2 separate regions of the Homo sapiens genome follow, and region 2 is linked to region 1. The links come from fine-mapping of genetic effects on gene expression. A gene starts in region 1. The other region holds a variant in brackets. All regions are shown on one strand. Distances are between the middles of the regions. Region 1 holds the start of UBN2 (ubinuclein 2). Region 2 has its middle 4.4 kb from the start of IFT56.

Region 1 (2,918 bases):
AAATATTTTATATTAAATTAACTCTGTTGCGTCTGTTGCTTTTACTTTATCCTAAGCAGTAGGTAAGTATTGTGAAACTTATATTTCACATATGCACATATGTGTTATGTATATATGGGTGTATATTCTAGGTTACAGTGTAAAATGTCTTACTGTGGGTTATGGATCAAAAAGTTGGAAAACTCAGTGGGTGAGAAGTTAGAAGATAATGTTGGATAAGTAACACACCTGTAGAAGGATTTGGCCCACAGACCACCAGTTTGCAGTCTCTGAGCTAAATTGTGGAGGATATTGAATATGAGTATACATACATAGAACTCAGTTTGTAGGTAAGTTGCAGCCAGAACAGAGAACGATATAATAAAAACTCTTTTAGAGACATTAATATGACCCCGTCTCAAGACTGGTGGGAACAGAGACTGAAGGCAGAAAGGTCATTTAAGTATCACTAAGGCAATCTAAAAATGAGACCCGAATTCAGAATCAGAAAAGGAGCAATAGGGAAGGAGATAATGTAGGTAAAACATGGCGCCGAGTAGAAAAGATAGGGTTTTAGAGCTGGGAGAGACCTTTGGAATCATAGATTTCATCACCATCTTCGTCCAAGTAGGGAAAGTAATAACAGGAGAGGAAAAAACGGAACCCTCTCAGAATTTGTCAATGACGTCACACTGACTTAATAAAAGAGCTTTCAATAGTTAATGCAATTAACAGAAGGCTTGGATTCCCTTCAGGATGTGAAGGGCGAGCCCTCAAATTTACTTTTTATTCAATGGATTAAAATGGCCAGTAATTCTTATCCTTTTAAACCCGACTTCCAATTAATTAATTACAAGTGAGCCTATGGGGCGTGCCCAATCAATTCCTTCCCCATCCTGAAATGGGTCCTTTAGCATTCTCATAAACAGTACGTTTCCTGAAATACCACTAAACCCTCTTAAGAAGTTTTCTATGATTTCAGCAGTTTAGGCCTTCTGAATGAGCCCAGAACTCCTCATCTGCTTGTTAATTTTCCAACTGCAAAGCGTTATTGAACATTTAATGACCCTGCCCCACGCAACGCCCACTGCGGCCGGGCGAGGGAAACCGGAGTAGGTCGAGGAAGGGGAGGCCTGCGCTTTCGGGAGGGAAGCCGCTGGGGCTAGTCTGGCTGAAGCTGGGCACTTCCTTTTTTCCCTCGATACTTAAGGCTACGGGGACACAGGGCGGGCAGGCACAACGGCTGGCGCGTCTCTCTACCCTTGCCCAGAGTCCGCCTTGAATAATCAGCTAACAACCCCAATTCCCTTGAACCCAGCACGGGAGACCCGGCGCCAATGGCTAGGTCGGTCTCAGTCCCATCCCGATGCTAGCCCCGGGAAGCTCCTGGAGCGCCTCTGGTTTCCGGGTGCGAATAGTAAACTGCTCGGGAAACCCCAGAACCCTCCCTTTGAGGAAGGGTGCAGACGGCGTCTCCGTTTCCACGGAAACAGGCCGAGCCATGTCGTCACTTCCGCCGACCTGTCTGGACTCCAGACTGTTGGGAGGAAAAGAGGAAAACTGAGCAACAGCCACGACAGTGGACGCGAGCGTCTCCTCTGTGCGCATGCGCCCGCTCAGCGGCCTGCTTCTATTTATGTGGGGGATCCAACATGGCGGCCGCGGCGACCCTGGCGATGGCGGTGAAGCCCATCAGAACGTAGTAGCGGGGAAGGGGACACGGTCCGCACTCACCGTGGCGCCGGCGGAGACGGCTGAGGGTGGTGGAGGGAAGAAAAGCGACAGAGAGCAAGAGGAAGGGCGGGCAGGCACGCAGCGCGCCGTAGAAGCGAGCGCCGGCTCGAGCAAAAGCGGAGGGCCAGAACAGTGGGGATGGCGGAGCCGCGCAGAGTAGCGTTCATTAGCTTGTCACCGGTGCGGCGGCGCGAGGCCGAGTACCCGGGGCCCGAGCGTGAGCCCGAGTACCCCCGCGAGCCCCCCCGGCTGGAGCCGCAGCCGTACCGCGAGCCGGCCCGGGCGGAGCCGCCGGCCCCGCGGGAGCCTGCCCCCCGCTCGGACGCGCAGCCCCCGTCGCGGGAGAAGCCGCTCCCCCAGCGCGAGGTCAGCCGCGCCGAGCCGCCCATGTCGCTGCAGCGGGAGCCCCCGCGGCCCGAGCCGCCGCCGCCGTTCCCGCCGCTGCCCTTGCAGCCGCCCCCGCCGCGGGAGTCGGCTTCCCGGGCTGAGCAGCCGCCGCGGCCGCCGAGGGAGACGGTGCGCCTGGAGCTGGTGCTTAAGGACCCCACCGACGAGAGCTGCGTGGAGTTCAGTTACCCGGAGCTGCTGCTGTGCGGAGAACAACGGGTACAGAAGATTCTTCCCTCCTGCCCCAGACCCCGGGAGCCTCAGGACCCGCCGCCTTCCCCAGCTGGTTTGCACCTTGGGACGCCCACCGAGCGCGTCCGGGTCGCCCCGAGGGTGGGGTGCGGGGGGCCGGGGCCGAGCGGGTGGACGGGGCGGTGAGCGCTGCTTTCTCCACTCCCCAGGGTGGCCGAGGCTCTCACCCGGCTGCGCCGAATCCCCAAACCCCCGGCACTCGCTCCCAACGCCGCGCCGAGCTCGTTTTCTTGTGCACCTTTCGGAACCTCAGATTTTCCTTCTTTCCTTTCTGCTCCCCACACAAAATCCTGGGGCCCTGCAGGCCGTGTGGCTGGGTTCTCCCTGTGGCGCTACAGCTGTCGTTCCAGTAGAAAGGAAGAGAAAACCTTGGGGGACACGCCCCCCAGTCTGAAGCAGAGATTGTGTAACCCCTCTCGTATCATCCTCATCCTCATCACTGTTTGTTTTGCTGGGCGCCGTGGCTGCTGAGGTGTGCTTGCGTGCCTGTGATATTTTTCTTAATCGAAGGGAATTTAAGAATAATTAAAGGTTTTCAGAGACTAAGGATCCCACTTTAGGAATGG
Region 2 (2,918 bases), 100 kb before region 1:
TGTGTATGTGTGTCTGTATGTTTTATGAGGCAGGGTCTCACTCTGTCATCCAGGATGGAGTGCAGTAGTACGATCTCGGCTTACTGCAACCTCCACCTCCGGGGCTCAAACAATCCTCCCACCTCAGCCTCCCGAGTAGCTGGCACCACAGGCACACCCCCATGCTGGGCTAATTTTTTCAGTTTTTATAGAGACAGTCTCACTACATCATCCAGGCTCATCTCAAACTCCTGAGCTCAAGTGATCCTCCTGCTTCAACCTGCCAAAGTGCTGAGATTACAGGTGTGAGCCATCGCACCTGCTACCTCCTGTCAGTATTGGGAAAAATGGTCTTACTTGACCCAAGAAGACCCTGAATTACAGTGGCCAAAGTAGGGTACTTGTGAAATGCCTAAGTTAGTTTGCTCACATGCACAATTAGAAAAAGCCAGCTCCAGAATTAAACAATATAATTTGGAGAGTTATTTCCAATGCTACCCAGAAGCATGCAAAAGAGGCTGTGACAGAGTTCTTTTCCTATAGAAAGAGAATGAAAAGCCTCTAAAACTTTTATTCAGAAAAGCTGCTGAAACTGCTGCTTCTCCTCCTTCTGCTCCCCCTTCTCTCTATCCCTCCTTATCACAACTACCTTGCCCAGACTGACCTTCTCTTCCCTCTCCTCCCCTTCCACCTGCTCCCACATTTTTGGCTTCATTTAATGAACATCCAGCATCTGGTAGAGGGAAACCTGCTTTAGTTTATCAACCATGGTCTAAGGTAGAACTTAAAGGCATAGTTAAATAATTCCCCGACCTTAACCAGGATCCTATTTGTTTTGCTAGGGAATTTGAATTAAATATCTGAGCTTATGGCCCTGGTTATTCTGATTTATATCAACTAACTCACATGTGACTATCAGAAAGTAAAGCTAAAGATTAGACAGACACAAATTGTCCCTGTTTGCAGATGACATGATTGTATATTTAGAAAACCCCATCATCTCAACCCAAAATCTCCTTAAGCTGATAAGCAACTTCAGAAAAGTCTCAGGACACAAAATCAATGTGCAAAAATCACAAGCATTCTTATACACCAATAGCAGACAGAGAGCCAAATCATGAGTGAACTCCCATTCACAATTGCTTCAAAGAGAATTAAATACCTAGGAATCCAACTTATAATGGATGCGAAGGACCTCTTCAAGGAGAACTACAAACCACTGCTCAACGAAATAAAAGAGGACACAAACAAATGGAAGAACATTCCATGCTCATGGA[C/T]AGGAAGAATCAATATCGTGAAAATGGCCATACTGCCCAAGGTAATTTATAGATTCAATGCCATTCCCATCAAGCTACCAATGACTTTCTTCACAGAATTGGAAAAAACTATTTTAAAGTTCATATGGAACCAAAAAAGGGCCCGCATTGCCAAGACAATCCTAAGCCAAAAGAACAAAGCTGGAGGCATCATGCTACCTGACTTCAAACTATACCACAAGGCTACAGTAACCAAAACAGGATGGTACTGGTACCAAAACGGAGATATAGACCAATGGAACAGAACAGAGCCCTCAGAAATAATACCACACATCTACAACCATCTGATCTTTGACAAACCTGACAAAAACAAGAAATGGGGAAAGGATTCCCTATTTAATGAATGGTGCTGGGAAAACTGGCTAGCCATATGTAGAAAGCTGAAACTGGATCCCTTCCTTACACCTTATACAAAAATTAATTCAAAATGGATTAAAGACTTAAATGTTAGACCTAAAACCATAAAAACCCTAGAAGAAAACCTAGGCAATACCATTCAGGACACAGGCATGGGCAAGGACTTCATGTCTAAAACACCAAAAGCAATGGCAACAAAAGCCAAAATTGACAAATGGGATCTAATTAAACTAAAGAGCTTCTACACAGCAAAAGAAACTACCATCAGAGTGAACAGGCAACCTATAGAATGGGAGAAAATTTTTGCAATCTACTCATCTGACAAAGGGCTAATATCCAGAATCTACAAAGAACTCAAACAAATTTACAAGAAAAAAACAAACAACCCCATCAAAAAGTGGGCGAACGATATGAACAGACACTTCTCAAAAGAAGACATTTATGCAGCCAACACACACATGAAAAAAATGCTCATCATCACTGGCCATCAGAGAAATGCAAATCAAAACCACAATGAGATACCATCTCACACCAGTTAGAATGGCAATCATTAAAAAGTCAGGAAACAACAGGTGCTGGAGAGGATGTGGAGAAATAGGAACACTTTTACACTGTTGGTGGGACTGTAAACTAGTTCAACCATTGTGGAAGACAGTGTGACGATTCCTCAAGGATCTAGAACTAGAAATACCATTTGACCCAGCCATCTCATTACTGGGTATGTACCCAAAGGATTATAAATCATGCTACTATAAAGACACATGCACACGTATGTTTATTGTGGCACTATTCACAATAGCAAAGACTTGGAACCAACCCAAATGTCCATCAATGATAGACTGGTTTAAGAAAATGTGGCACATATATACCATGGAATACAATGCAGCCATAAAAAAGGATGAGTTCATGTCCTTTGTAGGGACATGGATGAATCTGGAAACCAGCATTATCAGCAAACTATCGCAAGGACAAAAAACCAAACACTGCATGTTCTCACTCATAGGTGGGAACTGAACACTATGACACAGTGAGAACGCTATGACACAATGAGAACACTTGGACACAGGAAGGGGAACATCACACACTGGGGCCTGTCATGGGGTGGGGGGAGGGGGGAGGGATAGCATTAGGAGATATACCTAATGTAAATGATGAGTTAATGGGTGCAGCACACCAACATGGCGCATGTATATATATGTAACAAACCTGCACGTTGTGCACATGTACCCTAGAACTTAAAGTATAAAGAAAAAAAAAAAGATTAGA

What was found. PIP is the estimated chance that this variant, and not a neighbour inherited with it, causes the effect.
Region 2: its variant is the best candidate, but not a certain one, in a credible set for the expression of UBN2 in whole blood (TOPMed, PIP 0.61).

The regions. Positions count from the first base shown.
Region 1 is chr7:139,229,634-139,232,551 of GRCh38, forward strand. UBN2 (ubinuclein 2) reads left to right here and starts at 1,604. Exons shown (of 18, transcript NM_173569.4): 1 at 1,604-2,319. The coding sequence starts at 1,852. RefSeq lists enhancers at 1,385-1,544, 1,625-1,764 and silencers at 1,935-2,184, 2,395-2,614, 2,561-2,820.
Region 2 is chr7:139,127,923-139,130,840 of GRCh38, forward strand. No RefSeq gene overlaps it. Among named protein-coding and RNA genes, the nearest start is that of IFT56, 4.4 kb to the right of the region's middle. The variant C/T (reference allele first, on the strand shown) is at 1,257.